Linked DNA regions of Homo sapiens. The protein of the gene in region 3 interacts with the protein of the main gene of each other region in a pairwise test. Each region holds a gene or a part of one and is shown on either strand. Other genes may lie near its edges. The genes, in order: SYBU, SNX18, EXOC1, WASHC1, CAMSAP2, MLLT10 and RUFY2.

Region 1 (3,500 bases), on a different chromosome or scaffold from region 3:
GGGGAAAGGGGGAACAGAGTGCTGATGGACTTGGGGTTTCTTTTTGGGAGTGATACAAACTTTTTGGAATTAGTAAATGGTGATGTTTGCACAACAGTTTGAATAGGCTAAAAACTATTGAATTGAACACTTTATAGGGTGAATTTTATGGTATATGAATCATATCTCAATTTTTCAAAAAGGCAGTTGAGCTAAGGGAGACAGTCCTAGCCCTTGGGTACACAAGGTAATTGTTTTATTTCTTGGCTAAAATTTCATGACATTCTTTAACTCATTGTCTCTTTCTTAAATATCAAGGGTGCTCAACACCCTTTGTATCATCCCCATCTTTCTCATTTATAGGCTGTCTTTCCTTCTTCATTGTGTAGCATTCCTTTTCTTTTACATATTATTCCAAAGTGGGAGACTATTAACGAATTCATTATGACTAACATTTATCAGGCACCACTAGGAAATAGAGGATTTCTTTTTCACAGTTTAAGTTTTCCTTGGTGACAAAATGACCTAATCTTTGGTTGACAAGAGCAAGATGAAGAATAATCCATTATGATGTATTGTGTACATCAGTGACTCAGGAAGAACAAAAGCAGAAAGAAATGTTAGCATCCTATGGAAGAGGACACAGGGCTAGGCCTTGGCCCCATCAAAATAAAACCATCTGTAGCTCCTTGCACAATAATGTCATCACCAAACAAAACTTAGAAGACAAATGTAAGAAACAAGGACTCATGCAAGCCAGTAATCTGTCTTTTCAGCTCATAAATATGGATAGCATAACTGTGAATGTTAAAGAGAATAATGCAATGTTAGAGGATACCTCCCAATGACGATGAACACATCCTTTTACTTTAAAGTAAATATACTGCATGTGTATTTCTGAGATACAAAATATTCATTTACATAGTGCAGATTCTGAGAATTGACCTTTTCTGATGCTGCTGGCATTTCATTCACTGCAGTGATGACCTCCATTTCATCTTATAGCTTCTAATATTTTGTAATTATTGAACATTTACATGTGTTTATACATATCATATTCATATTTAAATCTCTAAAAGACTATAACTAAGTTAGCAAGTATGCCCAGCTCTACATATTTGCATCAAGATAACTCCCAGCTCTACAGAGATTTGCATTGAGATAACCTGTTCTCTTCACGGTTTGTGGTCACTTATGATAGTACTAACTAATTGCTTAGTATAATTGAATCTAGAATTACTCATATAGTTTAAATGCTTGTTAAAACATCTGGCTTATATTTCTTCACTTTTGTCTCTTTTTTAAAAAAAGCTCTTTATAATGAATACACATGTCACTATAGGTCACTATAGTTACTCAGTTATTAAAAACCATTTCAGAAAATAGTCCACTTTCCACCCTGCCTCCTTTAAAAATGATGCTTTAGATGCTGGGTACGGTATTTGTGATCCCCGACTCGATATACAGGTGTTTAGTTTTAAACATGAAACTACTCCCATCACATTGTTCTGATGAAAACATGACGAGTAAGTTCACTGACCTGGTTTCACAAGGCCTGACTTTGATTCCTTCTTATATCGAGAGGACTGAATGCTTCCTTCACCAACCATTCCAATCGTGCATTTCTTTCTGGTGAAGCCTTCATCACTTCCAGGGCAAAAGCCAATGGGGCTGTTTCCAGCATCTGAGGGTGTCTTCACAGGAGACACTGACTGGCTGCTAGGACAGCCTGTGTCATCTAGAAGACAGGAATCAATAAGTGTTTAATGATGAGGAGGAAATCAATGATGGTGAGAAGCCATGCGGTGCACCACACACACGCACACGTGCACTCGCACACGTACACTCTGCTTATGAAGCCCAGGTTAACTGCTGTGGACTCTCCTCTCATGACGCTCCTTTCATTTTTCCATATTTTAATGCAAAACCTTTTTTTTTTTTTGAGACAGTCTCACTGTGTCACCCAGGCTGAAGTGCAGCGGCGTGATCTCAGTTCATTGCAACCTCCACATCCCAGGTTCAAGCAATTCTCGTGCCTCAGCCTCCCAAGTAGCTGGGATTACAGACGTATGCCACCAGGCCCGGGTATTTTTTGTGTGTATTTTAGTACAGACAGGGTTTCACCATGTTGGCCAGGCTGGTCTCAAACTCCTGGCCTCAAGCGATCCATCTGCCTCAGCCTCCCAAAGTGCTGGGATTACAATCATGAGCTACCATGCCCGGCCCCTTGTAAGCTTTTTGACACAAATATTTCTGTAACACTCATTTTGTCAAAACATAAAGACATGTCTGTTTCAACACTTTATATAGTGTATTTTTGGGTCATATGTGTCCATAGATTTTTGGATGTGTTTAGTAATAAGAAGTTCACCAGAACAATTCAGGATCTTTAGGGTGAACTCTTCAGAGTTTACATCTGGAAAATAAAATTACTTGAATATTATTGACCACATCCAGTTTTGGATCACTTGACCCATCAATTGGTTAACAGAGTTTGAAAGATAAGTCATCCGACTTTAGGGTTCAAAGAAGCAGTGTGAAGTGATCCTGTTTTATCATACACACACAACCAAAAATACATAAATCAGATATATTGCTATCTGGAGTAAACTGGTAAGATGAAAATGATTTTTAGACTAGAAATGTTCCTTTAACTTTCAAATAACAGATTATTACCAGGGTGATTATATTAAGTTAATATGCACGATATGAAGTGACCTACATAGATGCTTATTATGGAAACAGGAAAGTCATACTGCTGACTCCTATAAATGCGTTCCACATTTATTAAAGTACTTAGGATAGTTGGTTAATTTATTTATATTTTGATGAGCAGAACTGTATTGGACCTCAAAGCCAAATCAGTATTACTTAAAAGTACATCTACTCAAACTGATCAGTTAGTGGTAAATTTACTTTACTAAATAATCTTTATTATATGAAGATGTTTTGATGCCAGAGTTACTTTAGTAACTCATTAGACAAAGAACAAATAAAGACATTCAGTACTAATAACTTTTCAGACATCTTGTGAATATTACGGGAACTAAAATAATGTGCCATCTACCAAAGGCTATCTTAAAACTCTACAGCTTGAATAAAGATAGAAACAGAACTAAGCCTGAATAAAACATGCTGATTGCTAGAATCCATCTAAAGAAAGAATTACCATTGCTTCATTTTTTGGCCTTTATTTCATTTTTCAATTACAAAATATCTCAATTCCTGGAACAGAGTGAACTTGGCACTAATAAAATGACTTATTTCTCTTGATAATCGTGTTTTGACTTTTTGGTCTATCAGCATACGCAGGACCTCTGTGGTCTGTTTCTGGAAGTGAATGGTTTTTAGGGTGCTGCTCATGCCTGCAGTCTTCGGGCTCTTTTAAATACGTTGCGTTCTTCCTGAACTCCTGAAGAAACTCTGGCCCTGAATAACAGGGTGATGAGAACCCTTCTTGGTGGCTGTTGCTCAGCTCTTTCATCATTCACTGCCCTTGCCTTTCCCTTACACTTACACAC
Region 2 (3,500 bases), on a different chromosome or scaffold from region 3:
AGTTAACAGCTATACAACACAGGAACATAAAAACATAACCCACACACTAATAACTGAGCACCGCACAGACAATTATTCACAAAAGGACTACAATCCAAGGGGGATACTCCAAGGAAGGGGACTAGACCTGAAGCTAGAAAGTGCTTGTGTTGGGGTGGGGAGACATGGAGCAGAATGCATGAGCCTGATCTACCTAAAAGGAGAAAACTCAATTCCTGATTGCTGCTCCCCACCCCTGTTCTGACAATTCTTATTGTAGGCCAGGCCAAACAGGCCAAAATTACAGTCACCCTTGATGACTCCCCTTTCTCTTGCATGTCACATCCTTCACAATCCCATCTCTCAGGAAAACCTGTTGATTCTACCTCCAAAATATAGCTGGAGGGGGACCCCCCCCCCCGGCTCCCCGACCACCACCTCTGTTGTCTCCACTCTGGTCCAGGCCACCAGCATCTCTCACCTGGATTACTGGAGTATTTCCTACTAGCTCCCTGCTTCCATCCACCTTTGACTGCCACACGCCATTCTATTCTCATTGCTCTGGACTAAGTCTGTTAATATGTCCAGTTGGATGTCATACCTTGGCTCAAAATCCTGTAATTGCTTCCATCTGACTCGGGCTTTCATTCCAAGTCCTAACAGTGACCTGCAAAGCCTTGCAAATCTGACTTTCCATGACCTCATCTCCTAGGATCCTCTTAACTTCAACCACCTGGCCTTGCTGTTCCTCAACCTGCCTGGCACATGTCCACCCCAGGGCCTTACTTTAGCTAAACCCTCTGCCTGAAAAGCTCTCCCCCGAGATACCTGCTTGGACGACTCTCCTGACTCCAGAGTGATTCAGGTCTCTGCTTAAATCTCACTTTCTCAATGAGACCTACTTTGAGCACTCTTACTAGTACTTCATCCTGCCTCCCATGCCCTCTTTCCCTGCTCTACTGTTTTCTCCTAGCACATACCAAACTCCAACATACATCAAAACTTACCTCCTGTGTTTGTTTTTCATTGAGTGTCTCCACCCTGCTAGACTGCAAGCTCCACAAGGGTGGGGATCTTTGTTTTGGCCACTGATGCAACACTAGCATCTTGAATAGTGCCTGGACGATGATGGGTACATACGTATTTGTTGAATAAAATCTAGTTTATCTTTTAGAGGGTCCTATGAATAAATCTAATGATTTTATCTCCCCTTCCTTCACTGTCCCCTTACCTGCTAAATAACAATTTATTTAGCAGAAGAGGAAAGTCAAATCACAGTGACAGATAAGTCATAAGAAAAGGTACAGAAATGACAAGTGAACTAAAACTCATTCAAATTAAAGTTTAATCAAGCTATAAGATCAATATCAGAGGCTGGGCACGGTGGCTCACACCTGTAATCCCAGCACTTTGGAAGGCCAAGGTGGGTAGATTGCTTGAGGTCAGGAGTTCAAGACCAGCCTGGCCAATATAGTGAAACCCCGTCTCTACTAAAAAAAATAAAAAAGTTAGCCAAGCATGGTGGCACATGCCTGTAATCCCAGTTACTCGGGCGGCTGAGGCAGGAGAATCATTTGAACTCGCGAGGCAGAGGTTGCAGTGAGCCGAGATCGCATCACTGCACTGCAGCCTAGGTGACAGAGCAAGACTCCATCTTTAAAAAACTGTCATAATTTATCTCTTTGGTAGTCCTATTAATTTGGGTCAGAGAGAAGTCGCTCCAGCTGTCTACCATACCACAGCTTCAGAACACCCGGGAACCCTCACCAGGCAGCAGCAGGCCAGGTATTAATCACTTTTACATTCGAAGTTCCTAGTGAGGTAAGCCTGCAATGCGTGATTGCTGATCTGAACTAAACGTGCATAAATGTTCTTTCACATCAACTGATAAGGGCTTTTCATGCTCCCGTAAAACAGTCACATAAGTAGACAGAGAACACTATTAAAATCAGCCTGAAACAATGTCTAAAAGTTTCCTGGATACTTAAGACTACTCTTATTTTTTTAAAAAAGTCAACTAACAAAATAGTACCTAGGAAATAATGAACCTCACTTTTACAGATGAGGAAACTGAAGCTCAGAAACATTAAGTGATCTGCACCAGAACACGTGATTTGGGTTAGAGGGGAGCCAGGAGGAGACAGTTTACATACACTCTTCAATGTGAACAACAACAAACGATTGACTCCAAACAACATCTACATTTATCCCAGTTGCCATTACTTCCGGTGTGCAATACAGGGCGAACTGATTAAAGCAGATATTTAATTGCTAGACTGAAGACTCCTTGAGCTTTTGTACTTTTGCCTACAATTCTGGTGGCAATAGGTTGCCAGGAGGGATGATAAGATTACTGGAATTGTCCTTCAAAGGAGAGCGCCCTTAATTTTTTTTTTTTTTTTAAAGAGACAAGGTCTCACTGTGTTGCTCTGGCTGGATTTGAACTCTTGGGCTCAAGTGATTCTCCTCCCTCAGCCTCTCAAGTAGCTGGTATTAAAGCCATGTGCCACCATGCCTGGTTGTCATCTCCTTTTAAATTCACCCATCTATTTTTCAAAAATAAACATTTAGTGACTAGCTACTATGAACTATAACATTTAATTCTCATGCTGACCTCGTGAGGAAGTGCCCCCACTTGGCCAAAGATAAGTGAGCGTTACGCAGGTTAAAATAGCTTGTCCAAAACTCCTCCATGCCCACACACTGGCCCTCCAGAGCCCATGCTGGTCCCGACAGGCCAGCTCCCACTGCGATGAGGCTCTGCACCCACGGCTTCTTGGCTTGGCATGCTGCCCCTTCACTGGCACAGCTTCCTCAGCAGACCCAGCTCAGTCCCACCCCTTGGTGCAACTCCTGGGGCAGACTGGCCCATCCACCAGGCTCTCAGAATCCTGGCACAAGGAACTGCCGAGGCTGGCTGACCTGTCTCTGTAGCTAGTCAAATAACTCACTTAAGACCAGAGGCCTACCCAGCCCTCCTGCAGACACCGGCAGAGCGGCCAGATTCTAGTCTGTGTTGTATAAATATGAGACATGATACACGTCTGCCTTCCGGATATAATCTTGTCAAACAGAGCTCAGCATTACTCTGCCACTTTATAATCCTTTAGTTAATGATACAGAGCTTCAAAAATATATGGCAAATTAAATCTAACTTGATATTTAAACTTTGATTTAAAAATACATGGGGTAATACAATAATAGTTTTTTATTCAGCCCAAAGAGAAGGAACATATTAAATAGTTCAAGGGAAGTGTTTGTAAGTGAATCACAGAACTTCTCACTTGTTTGGGTTCTGGCATTATGCTTAGAAGTCCTAAGATGGCCAGACAGGACAACATTGCTGAACAAGGAAACCTCATAGGCTCCCTGAGTTACTGGGAGGAGGGTGGGAGTGCAGGTCCTCTGCCTCCCTTCGGTCCCACTGTGGTCGGCATGACTCTGAAGGCTATGTGGCTCAAAAAAGAAGTCTGAGAAACCCCTGACGGTGTGGTATGAGCGGTGCCCACACCCAGTTTCGT
Region 3 (3,500 bases):
GTTTGTTTGTTTTGGTCTTTAACTTTGTAGGCTAACATCCAGTCAATCATGGCATCTGAAAAACAAGTCAACATCCTGATGAAATTGCTAGATGAGGCTCTAAAGGAGGTAGATCAGATTGAATTGAAACTGAGCAGTTATGAGGAAATGCTCCAAAGTGTAAAAGAACAAATGGATCAGATCTCTGAAAGCAACCACCTAATTCATCTTAGTAACACTAATAATGTAAAACTCCTATCTGAGATAGAGTTCCTTGTGGTAAGTATGATCATAAATTACCAACAAAAAAAAACTAGTGATGATATATAAAACCCATTTGTAAACATTTTTTAATTTCCTTGTGAGAACAGGATTTAAAATAATTCCAAAGACCTAATGATAGGACTGAATAGCATCTTGCCTGTAAATTTCCCAAAATTACACATGCAAATGGTGTGTTTGCATATATTCTAGAACCACATGGACTTGGCCAAAGGTCATATAAAGGCCCTTCAGGAAGGAGATCTTGCTTCTTCCAGAGGCATTGAGGCCTGCACCAATGCTGCTGATGCCCTTCTGCAGTGCATGAATGTAGCTCTTCGACCAGGTATGTTCATTAGAAATGACAAAAATGTGACCAAGAATGTGAGACTAAGCCTGTAACTTGTTATAAAGGTTTTGACAAGAAATACATGAGACAAGTGGTTTAAGGGTTACATTATTAGCTATTCAAGTTTCACTGATTTCCCAACTTATTTCTATTGATACTAGGAACTTTTTTACTTCAGTTCCTCCTTCTAATTGTCCTCAATGACTATAGTCAACACCATGATCTTTATTTAGTACTATCCACAGAACCCAGCAGAAAGTAGGTGCTTTGGTTAGACGAGAGCAATTATTTCAAAACTTGAGTGTCCGTCAGAATCCCTAGAGGTCTTGTTAAAAACATAGATTGCCTGGCCCCAGTCCCAGATTCAGCAGATCTGGGCTGAGATTTTAGAATCCACATTTCTAACAGTTCCCAGGCGATGGTGAGGCAAGACCACACTTTGAGAACTACTGTGAAATCCCATTTTTCTCCTGCTTAACTTTTATCATGTAAATGAATACACCCATAAAACTTTTGGGTTCTTCAAAACGTTAGATACGTTTAATGTTCCATTAAACATCAAGGAAATCTTTTTACCCATTAAACTGGTCACAAAATGTCGTTCTGTGTCAGGCCATGACTTGCTTCTGGCAGTCAAACAGCAACAGCAGCGATTCAGTGATTTGCGAGAGCTTTTTGCCCGGAGACTGGCCAGTCACCTCAACAATGTTTTTGTTCAACAGGTAATTTTATTTTATTATTAAAACGAGCATGTTCCTATAGCTTATTTATGTATTAACCTTACATTTCCACAAAAATGTTAATATGTTTAATTGGGGTTGCAGTCAATTCCTTCACATATTTGATTTTAAGATTTTGAAATAGGAGCCTCTTTGCTCATAGATGTACTTTGGGCCTCAGCTGCCTCTTTTGGTAGACAGTCTAGTTCCTTTCAGCTGATGCTCTCTGATTCTAGAAATCAAATAACTATGCATATGAATTGCATATACTACTTAGATATTTTTATTTATAAAGTAAGTCCAAACTTGTTAGATATTTACTATTGGACCTGTTTTATTTTTCAGTATTTTGAGGTGAGACTCAGGACTTGATTCAGTGTTTTAAATGTTTTGTAAGTTCTATGTACTTAGTACATAGTATAATTGTTAAGAAAATGACTAGCTCAACTGCAAATTTCAGTTGATCTAATCTTCATATAAATGCTTTACCTATATTTTTATATGGAAAAGGATGTTATAATTAAGAGTGTGGTAATAATATTGTTATTAATAATATTAAGAGTACCTTTGAGGGATTTGAATAAAAGCCATTTTAATATCTAATACAATAAATTAGGTTTCTTATTTTTTCATCTCTTTTAAAAGTCCCTTTTATTTTATTAGAGTTATAGAATGAAAAAAAATTGGGGGAATATCTCGTTCATCAAGAAATACTGCCTGAAAACAATGGATTTTTACTTTATTTTCACTTTGCAATATTCTAAAACAATTGTATTTACTATATTTTATTTCCAATTAGTTTACTCAGGCCCTCCTTCAACTCTATAACAGGTCCTACTTTCTTTCGGTTCCTGTGAGTACATCAAATTTGGCTCAAGCTTCTCTGATTCTGTTTTTTTTTTTCTATAAAGTTTGCTAAACTTAACAGCAGCCGAATCTTTACAGATTATAACTTACTGATTTAAGCTACCTGTTAACCACATTCGTAGCAGTTTTTAAATGTCCCATAGTAGAGACTATTTTGGCCAAAAAAGCATTTAATCTCATTCTGCTTGCTTTTCTTTCTGTCATTTTTTCACTCCATTTAGTAATAAATAGTAATATTACTCCTTCATTTAGTAATAGTAGTAATATTAATCCTTCATTTATTTAGTATTGCCAGGTGATTGAGGTACATACCAGACATTAACTTGGGATAAATGAGAGACCAATCCTGTCCTCTAGTAGTTCACAGTCTAGGGAAGCGAGACAAACAAATAATATACTCAAGAGGGATAAATGTTATGACAGCGAGACTGTGGGAGTGTAAAGGAAGACCACCTAACTAAAAGCACGGTAGGGGGGAATCAGAGAGATTCCCTTAACATTCCACTTGACTGAAAAGTGTCGAGAAAAAAGTAAGCTTAAATGTCACATAGGAAATACTAATTCATGTTTTTGTTAGGTACTTACTTCAATAACATCTATTTCTATACAATTCCTTAGTTTTTAAAAATGACACTGTTGACAATTATGTTATCCACATTTGTTAGATAGTATTGAAAATACCAGCCAGTAAACAATAGTCTTTTCTGTACCCTTAACTGTTTGTTGTAACATGCAGTTATTTATGATTTTGCTTCTTGCCTTGTAAACTAATGGCCTCGTTTAAAATGAATGCTTCCCATTTCTGAAAAGCTGATATGTGTTATTACATGTGAGTGATGCATGTTAAAAATCAGAACGCTGCGACAACCTGGGGTGTGCCAAAAACGGTGGAAGAAGATATCCCACACATAAGAAAGATTTTCTTAGTGTTGCATTCAGTGCATCAGGTCACCTAGCAAAATTGTTGAGAAACATGGGTATTTCTATTCCTGGTAGGGAGACAAGCTGGGAAAATTGATTAAAATAATATGGTACACCTCTTTGGCAATCACAGAATTTTCATTGTATGCTTATTATGTACTCACTGTCTACCATATATAAGAATAAGCAATAGTTCCTACCCTCAAGATGCTTGTAAGAAGGAATTAAAACTAATGTACTTACTCTTTGTAAGGAGTTAAGACTAATGTACATTAGCAATGTATGTAATAAATTGCTAATTGTAGAACTGTGGACTGTAAGTGCTAAAAAGGTTTAATCAAAAGTGAGTTTATTGAGAATTTAAGGAGTGAGATATGGAAGGAATTGCAGATAAGGTAGGACTT
Region 4 (2,722 bases), on a different chromosome or scaffold from region 3:
CCTTCCTCATGAACCCCAGTCGCGCCTCTGCCTTCTCATCCCTGCGCACCACACAGGCTCGCTCGTGCCCGGTGAGTGCTGAGGCTGCTCTGCACGTGGAGTATGGCCCTGTGGGCAAGGGCTGGGCTCTTGGAGGTAGGGGAGCTACAGGGGCGACTGGGAGGAGGATGTTGTGTTACACACGCATCAGAGTTAACTTTGCAGTGAGAGCGGCCTTGCTGCGGCCAAAGAACATGGAAAAGCATGAGTGGGGTGATGTGCCTTAAAGCATCAGACACTTGGGCCTCGGGCATCAGGAGCCAGCCACAGGGATGTCTGGGGAAATGGCGTTCCATGAGATGCAAGCACACAAGAATGCACTTGGCACATCTGGGGAACAGCAGGCAGCTGATATCACTGGGCCCACCCCGCACCAGGGAGGATGGAAGCAGGTGAGGAGCTAGACCACACTGAGGCGGTGGTCGGGACTCGGGGTTTGCTCAGTGAGCCGTTCACTATGTGCAGGGGCAGTTCCCCGTCTGAATTTAGGTGACGACACTCAGGTCCAGCCTTGCCAGTCTCAGCCTCCGGTCTCCGTTCCCCCTCTGCAGAGGCCACATTGTCTGCTGCACGTGATCATGAGGGGTTGTGAAGTGCTTGCCCCATCAGTAGCCATGTGTGCATGTGTAAATACCATCCTCTGTGTGCCCTGGAGGCTGTCCTTCAGATAGCATGTACAGGTGGCAGCATAGGGCCTGTCCCTTCTGAGAGTGCAGGGAACTCAGCACCGTCAACTCCTCGACCCTGCAGGTCAGATTATCCTTGTAGAGGCCCCCTGGATGGCACCAAGATCGGCCCTGGCAAGTAGGTGACCCTGACTTCAGAGCCCTTGCCTGAGGGCCTGGCCTGGCAGCTCTGCTGTTAGAAGCAGGAGGTGTGCAGAGGGTGGGGAGCAGCCCAGCCTCTGTGATCTTCTCCATGGCAGGATCTCCCAGCAGGTAGAGCAGAGCCGGAGCCAGGTGCAGGCCATTGGAGAGAAGGTCTCCTTGGCCCAGGCCAAGATTGAGAAGATCAAGGGCAGCAAGAAGGCCATCAAGGTAGTCCCCATACCCCTGTGTCCTGAGGCTACTGGGCAGTCCCTCCATTTCCCCGTGCCTCTGAGGCTGCCCAGTCTCTGCCCTGCTGCCCACCTGTACCTTGAGCTTTCTTCTCGCCCAGGCTTCCAACTCCACCCTCTCCTGCCAAGCAATCCTAGCCCTCTGAGCCTCTTGGGGCCCCCTCAGACTTGTCCCTGTGTCCACAGGTGTTCTCCAGTGCCAAGTACCCTGCTCCAGGGCGCCTGCAGGAATATGGCTCCATCTTCACGGGCGCCCAGGACCCTGGCCTGCAGAGACGCCCCCGCCACAGGATCCAGAGCAAGCACCGCCCCCTGGACGAGCGGGCCCTGCAGGTCTGCTGGCCGCGCATATAGCCTGTCACACACCAGGAGGACTGGATACTGGGGAGGAGCCGGGGCCACCATAGGGTTCTGTCCCCCAGAGGAGGCTGACTGGGATGGGATGGCAGCTGATTAGGCCCAGCACCAAATATTCACCATCCCTTGGCCATCCTGGCCCTCTCAGGAGAAGCTGAAGGACTTTCCTGTGTGCGTGAGCACCAAGCCGGAGCCCGAGGACGATGCAGAAGAGGGACTTGGGGGTCTTCCCAGCAACATCAGCTCTGTCAGCTCCTTGCTGCTCTTCAACACCACCGAGAACCTGTATGGCCAGAGGGCAGGGCCGAGGGGTGTGGGCGGGAGGCCCGGCCTGGCTTAGTGGGGACCCAGGGCATCAGACACAGGTACAGCACATAGGCCAGGAGCCAGGGGGTGACTGGGGTGGCTCGGCTCGGGAGGCCTGGGACCCCACAGTGCACACTGTGCCCCTGATGATGTGGGAGAGGAACATGGGCTCAGGACAGCGGGTGTCAGCTTGCCTGACCCCCATGTCGCCTCCGTAGGTACAAGAAGTATGTCTTCCTGGACCCCCTGGCTGGTGCTGTAACAAAGACCCATGTGATGCTGGGGGCAGAGACAGAGGAGAAGCTGTTTGATGCCCCCTTGTCCATCAGCAAGAGAGAGCAGCTGGAACAGCAGGTGGGAGGGGTGGGACAGAGGTGGAGACAGGTGCAGTGGCCCAGGGCCTTGCCAGAGCTCCTCTCCAGTCAAGGCTGTTGGGCCCCTTATTCCACCCATGGGAGGTGCACACAAGGTCTTGTTGGCTGCCCCTGCAGGTCCCTGTCACCTCTCACATGTCCCTGCCTAATCTTGCAGGTCCCAGAGAACTACTTCTATGTGCCAGACCTGGGCCAGGTGCCTGAGATCCATGTTCCATCCTACCTGCCTGACCTGCCCGGCATTGCCAACGACCTCATGTACAGTGCCGACCTGGGCCCCGGCATTGCCCCCTCTGCCCCTGGCACCATTCCAGAACTGCCCACCTTCCACACTGAGGTAGCCGAGCCTCTCAAGGTAGGTGAGCTGGGTTCTGGGATGGGAGCTGGGCCGGGGACCTCCCTGCTCACACACCTTCTTCCCTAGACACCCCACACTTTGTGTTTCAGACCTACAAGATGGGGTACTAACACCACCCCCACCGCCCCCACCACCACCCCCAGCTCCTGAGGTGCTGGCCAGTGCACCCCCACTCCCACCCTCAACCGCGGCCCCTGTAGGCCAAGGCGCCAGGCAGGACGACAGCAGCAG
Region 5 (3,500 bases), on a different chromosome or scaffold from region 3:
ATTTCAAATTGGTGAGTTTCATTTTACTTTTTTATATATCAGTTTTTATGTTTATAAAAATGAAAATAATTCATATCTCACAAAGACATTGAGATGTATATGAAAGTACTTCAAGTTGTTTGGCTAAAAGACATAAAATATATATAGATACATACTGTAATCACAGCCATTCTTTGGTTTAAACAATATGTTTCCATATTTTTAAAATTTAGGTTGTAGAATGAGAGGTGGTAGTGTTGTTTCTAACTTAAGACATTCTACCTAAATTTATATTAAACAGCTAAAATATAACATTTTAAATTTATTTTCCATTGCAGTGGGGAAGGAGCTACATTTACACAGTCTCATCATCATTTGCCTTCTAGGTATTCACGTCCCCAGGCTCATTCTTCAGCCTCAGGTAATATATTTGAAAAAGCCTAGGAAAATACTCTTTTAAGTAGGTTACCTGGGAAATGATTGACAGTAAATATAAATAAACAAATATCCAGGGTTTTTTTGTGTGTGTGTGTGTGTGTTTTTTTGTTTGTTTGTTTGTTTTCTGAAAAATGGCTATTATAACACACTAAAAGCATGGTCAGTTTCACTGTGGTTGCTTTTCTTGATAAAATTATCTCTAATTCTCCTTATGTACCTATTTAATTTGTATTGCTATTAATGAATCCTCAAATACATGAAATCTCCTAAGTTGCTATAAGTTAATTTTTTTACATGATTTCAATGGCTTTTTCTTTTTTGCATTTGAAGGAGGAATTAGAAGGTCTTCATCTATGTCTTATGTTGATGGCTTCATAGGGACATGGCCCAAAGAGAAAAGGTAAACAAAGAGAATTACTTTTAGTGTATTCAGATTATTAAGAAATGCAAATTGCATCTGTGTCTCTCTTTTATTGATAACCAAATTGCTAAAACTTTTAATTAGTTCCTAAATTTGAAAAAGGCAGTATAGGCAGATGATAGAGATGTAAAAGAGGCTAACTTTAAAAAGTAGCTAGATAGCCCTCCCCTTACCTTGAAGACAGTATGATTATGAGAACTGGGGAAAGAAAGGAAATGTAATTTCAAATAATTCTTGTTAAATGATACTAAAAATCATTTCTAGGATTTTTAAAGGATTTTTCTCTTTAACTTTTTTTTAGATCATCAGTGCATGGCGTATCATTTGATATTTCTTTTGATAAAGAAGATAGTGTACAGAGATCCACTCCAAACCGAGGAATCACTCGTTCTATTAGTAATGAAGGACTTACTCTGAACAACAGTCATGTATCTAAACACATTAGGAAAAATTTGTCCTTCAAGCCAATAAATGGAGAAGAGGAAGCAGAGAGCATTGAAGAAGAACTTAATATAGATTCTCACAGTGACCTCAAATCTTGTGTGCCCCTTAACACAAATGAACTAAATTCTAATGAGAATATTCATTACAAGCTTCCAAATGGAGCTTTACAAAATAGAATACTTCTTGACGAGTTTGGCAATCAGATCGAGACACCAAGCATTGAAGAAGCATTACAAATAATTCATGATACTGAAAAATCTCCTCATACACCTCAGCCAGACCAAATTGCTAATGGCTTCTTTCTTCATAGTCAAGAAATGAGTATCTTAAATTCAAATATCAAGTTAAATCAATCTAGTCCTGATAATGTAACTGATACGAAAGGTGCCTTGAGTCCCATAACTGACAATACTGAAGTAGACACTGGAATTCACGTTCCTTCAGAAGATATTCCTGAAACTATGGACGAAGATTCTTCGTTGAGAGATTATACTGTAAGCTTGGACTCTGACATGGATGATGCATCTAAATTTCTTCAGGATTATGATATTCGAACTGGCAACACCAGGGAAGCTTTGAGTCCTTGTCCAAGTACTGTAAGTACCAAGTCTCAGCCAGGCAGCAGTGCTTCTTCTAGTTCTGGAGTTAAAATGACCAGCTTTGCTGAACAAAAATTCAGGAAACTGAATCATACCGATGGAAAAAGTAGTGGAAGCAGTTCTCAAAAAACTACACCAGAAGGCTCTGAACTTAATATTCCTCATGTGGTTGCTTGGGCACAAATTCCAGAAGAAACAGGGCTTCCACAGGGACGGGACACTACCCAGCTGTTGGCCTCTGAAATGGTGCATCTTAGGATGAAACTAGAAGAAAAGAGGCGTGCTATAGAAGCCCAGAAAAAGAAAATGGAAGCTGCTTTTACCAAACAGAGACAGAAAATGGGAAGGACAGCATTCCTTACTGTAGTGAAAAAGAAAGGGGATGGGATATCTCCTCTACGAGAGGAAGCGGCGGGTGCAGAAGATGAGAAAGTATATACTGATCGAGCAAAAGAAAAGGAATCACAAAAAACTGATGGACAAAGGAGCAAGTCACTGGCAGATATAAAAGAGAGCATGGAGAATCCTCAAGCCAAATGGCTAAAGTCTCCAACTACACCTATTGATCCTGAGAAGCAGTGGAACCTGGCAAGCCCCTCAGAAGAAACTTTAAATGAAGGAGAGATTTTAGAATATACCAAATCCATTGAAAAGTTAAATTCATCCCTGCATTTTCTACAACAAGAAATGCAACGCTTGTCACTTCAGCAGGAGATGTTAATGCAGATGAGAGAGCAACAATCTTGGGTGATTTCACCTCCACAACCCTCTCCACAGAAACAGATTCGAGATTTTAAGCCTTCTAAGCAGGCAGGCCTGTCATCAGCCATTGCACCATTCTCCTCAGACTCCCCTCGTCCTACTCACCCATCTCCACAGTCTTCTAACAGGAAAAGTGCATCTTTTTCTGTTAAAAGTCAAAGGACTCCTAGGCCAAATGAGTTAAAAATAACACCTTTGAATCGAACCTTGACACCTCCTCGGTCTGTGGATAGCCTTCCTCGGTTAAGGAGGTTTTCACCAAGTCAAGTTCCTATTCAAACTAGGTCATTTGTATGTTTTGGGGATGATGGAGAACCTCAGTTAAAGGAATCCAAACCTAAAGAGGAAGTTAAAAAGGAGGAATTGGAATCCAAAGGGACTTTGGAACAGCGTGGACATAATCCAGAAGAAAAGGAAATCAAACCTTTTGAGTCAACAGTCTCTGAAGTCCTATCACTGCCTGTCACAGAGACTGTATGTCTGACACCAAATGAGGACCAATTGAATCAACCCACAGAACCCCCTCCTAAACCCGTTTTCCCACCCACTGCTCCAAAAAATGTTAATCTGATTGAAGTTTCCCTCTCAGATTTGAAACCCCCTGAAAAGGCTGATGTACCTGTTGAAAAATATGATGGAGAAAGTGATAAAGAACAATTTGATGATGACCAGAAAGTATGCTGTGGATTCTTTTTTAAGGTGTAGTATTAATCTGCATAGTTTTGGGCATCTTCATTAGATGAGTGTGGTTGTGTTGGATATTTTTTTTTTCAGTTGACATGCTTGCTTCTTTCAGTAGCAGTCCCTTTTGATACAAGTTCATCCCCATTAACTATAGTAACATTCAAGCACACTGT
Region 6 (3,500 bases), on a different chromosome or scaffold from region 3:
ACCATAGGAGGCAACATGGTGGTTAAGAGGTAACACAGTGGTTAAGAGCTTAATCACATCCCAGACTGTCATAAAACATCTATCTCTCTTAAAACTATAGTATCCTTACCCATAAAGTAAGAATAATATCCACCTCATAGATGTGACAGGATGCTTAAATGAAGTAACTGGCATAAAACATTTAGCACAGTATGTGGGCACATAGTAAACACTCAAAAAGTTAGCTACTCATTTTGGAACAAGTAGCACAGTAAGTCGGCAGAAAGAAAAGAATGGAAGCAGGCATGCAGACAAAAGTAGAAAAAAGATTCATAAGACTAATTCAATTCCCTTTCTGGGTGAAATACATTTCCATGTTAGGGTTCTTGACTCCTGTGTCCTTATAATACAATGCCCTTTCTTTGCTTATCTGTTTCTTACAAAGGACCCTGCCTTTCATAATTATACACTACAGACCGGGCATAGTGGCTCACAATGGTAATCCCAGCACTTTGGGAGGCCAAGGTGGGCAGATCACCGGAGGTCAGCAGTTCGAGATCAGTCTGACCAACATGAAGAAACCCCATCTCTACTAAAAATACAAAACTTAGCTGGGCGTGGTGGCACACACCTGTAATCCCAGCTACTCCGGAGGCTGAGGCAGGAGAATCGCTTGAACCCGGGAGGCGGAGGTTGCAGTGAGCCAAGATGATGCCACTGCACTCCAAGCCTGGGCAACAAGAATTAAACTCTGTCTCCAAAAAAACATAATATATATTTTTAAATATAATTTTAAAAAGGTTTTGCTTTTGCCTCTTCTTTAAAAATCCTTGGCCAGGCAACATGGCTCACGCCTGTAAACCCAGCACTTTGGGAGGCTGAGGCGGGTGGATCACCTGAGGTCAGGAGTTCGAGACCAGCCTGGCCAAAATGGAGAAGCCCTGTCTCTACTAAAAATACAAAAATTAGCCGGGCATGGTGACGCATGTCTGTAACCCCAGCTACTGGGGAGACTGAGGCAGGAAAATCGCTTGAATCCAGGAGGTGGAGGTTGTGGTGAGCCAAGATTGTGCCATTGCACTCTAGCCTAGGCAACAAGAACGAAACTCCATCTCAAAAAAGAAAAACAAAAAACTAGCCGGGCATGGTGTCTGTAATCTCAGCTACTCCGGAGGCTGAGGCAGGAGAATCACTTGAACCCGGGAGGCGGATGCTGCAGTGAGCCGAGATCGCGCCATTGCACTCCAGCCTGGGCAACACAGCAAAATTTCGTCTCAAAAAAAAAACAAAAAAAAAACCTTAATGTCACCCACATCCCACCAAATGATGTTAAAATAAAATGCCCCCCTGCAAAAACTTCTTTTTCTTAAAGAGGGTTTCACTTTGTCACCTGGACTAGTGTGCAGTAGTGTGACTATAGCTCATTGCAACCTCAAACTCACAGGCTCAATGGATCCTCCTGCCTCGGCCTCCCACGTAGCTAGGACAAGTACACCACCACATGTGGTTAATTTTTTTTTTCTTTTTGTAGAGATAAGGTCTCACTATGTTGTCCAGGCTGATCTCCAACTTGTGGCCTGATCTCCAACTCAGGCGTGATCCTCTCACCTCGGCCTCTCAAAGCACTGGGATTATAGGCGCAAGCCACTGCTCCCAGCAGCATCTAATATATATATATTTTTTTGAGACAGAGTTTCACTCATTGCCCAAGATGGAGTGCAATGGCACGATCTCAGCTCACTGCAACCTCTGCCTCCCGGGTTCGGGCGGATCTCCTGCTTCAGTCTCCCGAGTAGCTGGGATTACAGGCGCTCACTACCACGCCCGGCTAATTTTTTGTATTTTTAGAAGAAACGGGGTTTTAAGATGTTAGCCAGGCTGGTCTCGAACTCCTGACCTCATGTGATCTGCCTACCTGAGCCTCCCAAAGTGCTGGGATTACAGGCTTGAGCCACCATGCCCAGCCCTAATACACCTTTTAAGTTAACTACCTTATTCACACTGACACTTTGACCATGTCCTCAGAGAGAATAAAAGAGTGGAAGCACGTAACAAGTGGCATTTGAGGCAAATGATGCTGGCATTCTGACACTCCCTATTCATTATCTTCTCTCTCTGAATACCCACCTTATTTTCCTATCTTTTCCAGCCTTCAATCTACTGTGACACCCCCAGGAACAGCCTCATCTCATTGTCAGTGTTTACTAATAAACCATACGTTCCACTGCGTAGTGACCTATTCACCACAAACCGTAACATGATACAAAGAAAAAAAAGTCAAAGAGTAACGCTATAAAGATTTCACCAAGTCCCAAACTTTCTATGATTGATTTTATCCTCCATTTGCTAAATCACACTAGAATAACAGCTGTAATTCTATTAAAGTGCATTCTCACACACAACCAAAACATATCATCGGAACTATAAAAAAATTGCTCTGGCCGGGCACGGATGCTCACACCTGTAATCCCACCACTTTGGGAGGCTGAGGTAGGAGGACTGCTTGAGCTCAGGAATTCCAGACGAGGCTGGTCAACAAAGCAAGACCTCATTTCTAGTAAAATTCAGGCCGGGCGTGGTAGCTCACGCCTGTAATCCCAGTACTTCGGGAGGCCAAAGCAGGCAGATCACCTGAGGTCAGGAGATCGAGACCAGCCTGGCCAACATGGTGAAACCCCATCTCTACTAAAAGTACAAAAATTAGCTGGGTGTGGTGGCGCATGTCTGTAGTCCCAGATACATGGGAGACTGAGGCAGGAGAATCGTTTGAATCCAGGAGGCAGAGGTTGCAGTGAGCGGAGATGGCGCTACTTCACTCCGGCCAGGGCGACAGAGCGAGACTGTCTCAAAAATAAAATTAAAAAATTAGCTGGGTGTTAAGTGCTACAGGCCTGTAAGTCCCAGCTACTCAGGAAGCTGCGGCAGGAGGATCTCTTGAGCTCAGGACTTCAAGGCTGCAGTGAGCAATGATTGCGCCACTCCACTCCAGCCTGGGGAACAGAGCAAGACTGTCTCAAAATAATAAAATACAAATAGTTCTGAGACTCAACACATTTTTATAGGTTACTCAACCATTATTTCTTTCTTTTTTTGTGAGACGAGTCTCGCTCTGTCGCCCAGGCTGGAGTGCAGTGGCGCAACCTCAGCTCACTGGAACCTCTGCCTCCCAGGTCCAAGCGATTCTCCTGCCTCAGTCTCCCAAGTGGCTGGCATTACAGGTGCACACCACCACACCCAGCTAATTTTTGTATTTTTAGTAGAGGTGGGGTTTCGCCATGTTGCTCAGGCTGGTCTCAAACTCCTGACCTCAGGTCATCCACCCACTTTGGCCTCCCACAGTGCAAGGATTACAAGCACGAGCCACAGCACCCAGCCCATTATTTCTACCGCTCAAAAATTGCCCAGGCAAACACAAAAGCTTCTGCTTTTGCTATATGCCTAGGTAAAGAAGCTAAAATGTTTGTTCTCTACCTTCAGTCTAATTCCATAATCAACACCAAGGGAAAGGAATTTGCTATAAC
Region 7 (3,975 bases), on a different chromosome or scaffold from region 3:
GCATTTTCTGAAGACCATTTATTATTCCATTATTAGAAAACATAGTCATAAGATATTTTCTCCCAAAATCAATCCACTCAATATTTTTTAGTGCACAGTAACGTAATTATGGCCTCAAAAAATAACCCATTCTCAAGGGCACTTGAAAAACGGAAATTCTAAAATGAATTAATTTTTTAAAATCTCATGATACCTTTAAGACCGTGTTTCAGGCAATGTTCCATAACAACAAAGAATTGCTGCAAGGGGGGATAGTCAGAATCCAAAGTGCGGCCAAAGCTCAGAGCAGATTCAATGAGTCCTTTGATACTCAGTTTAGCCATGTTTAACAAGTTTGCTCTCTCTACAGCTGTGGGGTCTTTTGTAGCTGAAAACACAAGAAAGGAATCCAACATCATTTGTAAGACATGACAATGAAAAATATACAAACCATTCCCTTCCCCTATAAAAACCAACAGTAGTTTGCTGTTCCTTGGTTGACAAATTCTCCCCAGCTAAACCACACCCTTGATTAACTTCTCTTTACATCTCTCACATATACTGTAAAAAATTTCCGGCCAGGCGCGGTGGCTCACGCCTGTAATCCCAGCACTTTGGGAGGCCAAGGCGGGTGGATCATGAGGTCAAGAGATTGAGACCATCCTGGCCAACATGGTGAAACCCCGTCTCTACTAAAAATACAAAAATTAGCTGGGCATGGTGGTGCGCGGCTGTAGTCCCAGCTACTCGGGAGGCTGAAGCAGGAGAGTCACTTGAACCCAGGAGGCGGAGATTGCAGTGAGCTGAGATAGCGCCACTGCACTCCAATCTGGTGACAGAGCGAATCTCCGTCTCACAAAAAAAAAAAAAAGAAAAAGAAAGAAAGAAAGAAAAAAGAAAATTTCCATGACCACTCCAGCCAAAGTTAATGAATTATTCTCAAGATCCTGCAAATCTGCCATTCTCCTGTATTTAACTTTCCTGGTACCTCTTCATAGAGAATGAGTTTTTTAAAATGATCTTCTATGGAGATAAATTTGGGGTGAGAGACAACAGGTTTAAGGGCCTCATGCAAAAGGTAGATAGCAGGTACGGTCTTAGGATGAATTCCAAGGCAAAAATGTTCAGAATAAACTGGCAATAAAATAAAAGGTAGTTAAAATTCTAGGATTCCAGTGTCATCCACAACAAACATGACAGGTAAAATACACTGACAAGGGGACACAGAAGAAGCCGTCCAATTCTTTCGTCTACCCTCTTTCTGTCTGGCTTCTTCATTCTGACTGTAGTTCTGTATTGCATGACTGTTTTATTTTCAAAGAGAAAATAAAAGCAGAGACCAGTTTTACATTAATGTTCCTCACCCATCCACACAGTTGAGGATGCCCACAGCGCCAGTCTGAATACCAAGTTAATAGATGCAAATTCTAAAAGGCCTGATTTTTAATTGATATTTTTAAGACACAGTATCATCAAGTAAGATATTTTCAATTCACAAAAATATTGTCCTCCTTCCCGCAAATTTTATTCTCAGTTTACTTAGAAATTCAGACGCTTCCCCATCATCTCATCACTGTTGTGACTGGTGGGAATACCTTCAACAAACACAGATGACAAAACTAAGGTGTGGAAAAACGAAGCACTTAGTATAACATTTCATAATCTCTGACAAATTTACAAGTAATCAATGTGCCCGTTTTTCCTTCACTGAACAACAACAACAACAAAAAACCCAGAGTCTCCAATGATCTAGTATTCCAGCTCCGATTTCTAGATAGCTAGGCATGAAGCCTGACACTGAATCCTAAGCAACCTAAAATGCAAACAGCCACAACTGCTATGGCCAAACTGCCTGGTGGAAAAATGTCCACACACGAATTCCTTCAAATCTGCATCGTGGTCTGACTCCCACTATTTTTCGGGAGTGAAACCACTTCATGTTTCATAATCCGTGGCAACTCTCATTTTTAACACAGCCCATCATAATTCCTAACGTGCGATGCGACAACCACACAAAGGGTGTTTTGCAGCTGCTGGGAGGCAGATCGGTGCTGGGCACCGGCAGTTCCCACGCCGAGGGGCGTTCACACCGCGGCCACGCCCCGGCTGCGCTACAGGACTTCTCCGGCCCGTACGCGACCCCCAAACCCGGCCGCAGGCGCGCAAGGAGTACCAGGGCCAGTGCCCGCACCTTGCCGGGGCCTAGAGCCCCTTCCCTGCCTCTCTTCCTGCCCCCTCCCCCCAGCAAGGCTGCCCAGAGGCCTGGGGGCCCCCCAGGACCATCGCGGCGGGCTCACCCAGGCTCCTGCGCGTCAGCATTCCCCGTCTCCCGCCCTCGGCGTCAGGCACCCAGGCCAAAACCTGAGATGCGTCTTCCCTCCGCCACCCCCAAACCTGAAAAGTCATCGCCCCTCCCCGCCTGCTCCCCGACCCGGGAGTGACACCCTGCCTGGCCCTGTCCTCGCTCCTGGACGCCGTGGCACCTCGAGCCCTCGGCCACTATGCCTCAGAACCCGGGCGGGAACGGGCCGGAACAAGGGAGGGGGCGCGTTGCCATGACGACCCCGGGAGCCCCCGAGTCCCAGGCAGTCCCCGCCCATCCTGGGTTCGGGCCCCAGTTCCGACTGGCGGCCTCGGCGTCTCCCCCAGCTCCCAGTCCACCCCGCCTGGCCGCGGCCCTCAGCCCGGGACTGAGGGCCTAGCGTTCGGTTTCGGCCCGCTCGCCTTACCCATGGCGGCGGCGGCTGCGCGGTCTCGGGCGGAGGCTCCCTCGGCCTGTCCAGCAGCTCCTTCCAGGCGCTCGGCGGCCACCACCGCATCTGCAGCCAGGCCCGCTGCAGCCCACAGCGCCCCCGGCGGCGGGAGGGCGCCCGGGCGGCCCCAGGGGGAGCGGCGCCCCGGGCGGGGCGGGGACCCGCGGACCCTGCGGCGGGCGGGAGAGAAGCCCGCCGTCTCTAAGCCTCCTCGCATCCGCTGGGACCGCGAGGAGAAGGAAAGGAACGTGAAGGAGACCACATGTGTGAGGAGCCAGAGTGCTGGGCCCTCGGTCCCGTGTCCCGGGGGCTTCGCTGGAGCGCGAAGGCCGGATTTCAAGGGGCGGCCGGCCACACGCAAACGTTGCTTCCACCGGGCTGGTGGGGCCTGATCTAACACGCCTGACTACTGCCCATTCACCTTCACAAACACAAAGGGGACCAAAAGAATTTAGAAAATCTGAAGCAATTAACAGTAGGCAGAAACCTAATAAAACTAGTTAGTCCCAAATTACGACTTTTTTTTGTTTTTTGGGTTGTTTTTTTTTTTTTTTTTTTGAGATGGAGTCTCGCTCTGTCACCAGGCTGGAGTGCAGTGGCGTGATCTTGGCTCACTGCAAACTCTGCCTCCCGGGTTCAAGGGATTCTCCTGCCTCAGCCTCCTGAGTAGCTGGGATGACAGGCGCGCGCCACCCCGCCCGGCTAATTTTTGTATTTTTAGTAAAGACGGGGTTTCACCATGTTGGCCAGGGTGGTCTCGATCTCTTCACCTGGTGATCCGCCCATCTCGACCTCCCAAAGTGCTAGGATAACGCCTGAGCCACACAGCCCGCCCTAAAACAATTTGGTAAAGCTCATTACAAAAAGCTAAAGTGAAAAAAGAGAGAAAACAATTCAAAAATATTTCATTATGTGCCACAGCAATATCCACACAAGCACTAAAATTCAGACCTCGGCTGGGTATGGTGGCTCATGCCTGTAATCCCAGCACTTTGAGAGGCTGAGCTGGATAGATCACGAGGTCAGGAGTTCGAGACCAGCCTGACCAACATGGTGAAACTCCGTCTCTACTAAAAATACAAAATTTAGGCAGACGTAGTGGCATGTTCCTGTAGTCCCAGCTACTCGGGAGGCCAAGGCGGGCGGATCACCCGGTCAGAAGTTCGAGACCAGTCTGGCTAACATGGTGAAACCTCATATCTACTAAAAATACAAAAATTAGCCGGGCGTGGTGGCGCGTGCC

The links.
Region 1: the proteins of EXOC1 (region 3) and SYBU interact in a two-hybrid assay, tested with the Homo sapiens proteins (2 studies listed by BioGRID and IntAct).
Region 2: the proteins of EXOC1 (region 3) and SNX18 interact in a two-hybrid assay, tested with the Homo sapiens proteins (one large-scale study listed by IntAct).
Region 4: the proteins of EXOC1 (region 3) and WASHC1 interact in a two-hybrid assay, tested with the Homo sapiens proteins (one study listed by IntAct).
Region 5: the proteins of EXOC1 (region 3) and CAMSAP2 interact in a two-hybrid assay, tested with the Homo sapiens proteins (one large-scale study listed by IntAct).
Region 6: the proteins of EXOC1 (region 3) and MLLT10 interact in a two-hybrid assay, tested with the Homo sapiens proteins (one large-scale study listed by IntAct).
Region 7: the proteins of EXOC1 (region 3) and RUFY2 interact in a two-hybrid assay, tested with the Homo sapiens proteins (one large-scale study listed by IntAct).

What each region holds. Positions count from the first base shown.
Region 1 is NC_000008.11:109,617,323-109,620,822, forward strand, and holds part of SYBU (syntabulin), read right to left. Parts: intron 1,718-3,500; coding exon 1,520-1,717; intron 1-1,519. UniProt on the Homo sapiens protein: Part of a kinesin motor-adapter complex that is critical for the anterograde axonal transport of active zone components and contributes to activity-dependent presynaptic assembly during neuronal development.
Region 2 is NC_000005.10:54,524,259-54,527,758, reverse strand, and holds part of SNX18 (sorting nexin-18), read right to left. Parts: intron 1-3,500.
Region 3 is NC_000004.12:55,870,648-55,874,147, forward strand, and holds part of EXOC1 (exocyst complex component 1), read left to right. Parts: intron 1-30; coding exon 31-258; intron 259-453; coding exon 454-586; intron 587-1,201; coding exon 1,202-1,311; intron 1,312-2,107; coding exon of another isoform or gene 2,108-2,161; intron 2,162-3,500.
Region 4 is NC_000009.12:16,735-19,456, reverse strand, and holds part of WASHC1 (WASH complex subunit 1), read left to right. Parts: exon of another isoform or gene 1-311; coding exon of another isoform or gene 312-431; intron 432-964; coding exon 965-1,076; intron 1,077-1,282; coding exon 1,283-1,429; intron 1,430-1,601; coding exon 1,602-1,738; intron 1,739-1,977; coding exon 1,978-2,113; intron 2,114-2,290; coding exon 2,291-2,492; intron 2,493-2,580; coding exon 2,581-2,722. UniProt on the Homo sapiens protein: Acts as a component of the WASH core complex that functions as a nucleation-promoting factor (NPF) at the surface of endosomes, where it recruits and activates the Arp2/3 complex to induce actin polymerization, playing a key role in the fission of tubules that serve as transport intermediates during endosome sorting.
Region 5 is NC_000001.11:200,846,893-200,850,392, forward strand, and holds part of CAMSAP2 (calmodulin-regulated spectrin-associated protein 2), read left to right. Parts: intron 1-317; coding exon 318-400; intron 401-747; coding exon 748-817; intron 818-1,139; coding exon 1,140-3,342; intron 3,343-3,500. UniProt on the Homo sapiens protein: Key microtubule-organizing protein that specifically binds the minus-end of non-centrosomal microtubules and regulates their dynamics and organization.
Region 6 is NC_000010.11:21,540,732-21,544,231, reverse strand, and holds part of MLLT10 (protein AF-10), read right to left. Parts: intron 1-3,500. UniProt on the Homo sapiens protein: Probably involved in transcriptional regulation. In vitro or as fusion protein with KMT2A/MLL1 has transactivation activity. Binds to cruciform DNA.
Region 7 is NC_000010.11:68,404,478-68,408,452, forward strand, and holds the start of RUFY2 (RUN and FYVE domain-containing protein 2), read right to left. Parts: upstream 2,801-3,975; 5' UTR 2,713-2,800; coding exon 2,709-2,712; exon of another isoform or gene 2,386-2,708; coding exon of another isoform or gene 2,277-2,385; exon of another isoform or gene 1,348-2,276; coding exon of another isoform or gene 1,344-1,347; intron 989-1,343; exon of another isoform or gene 968-988; intron 368-967; coding exon 194-367; intron 1-193.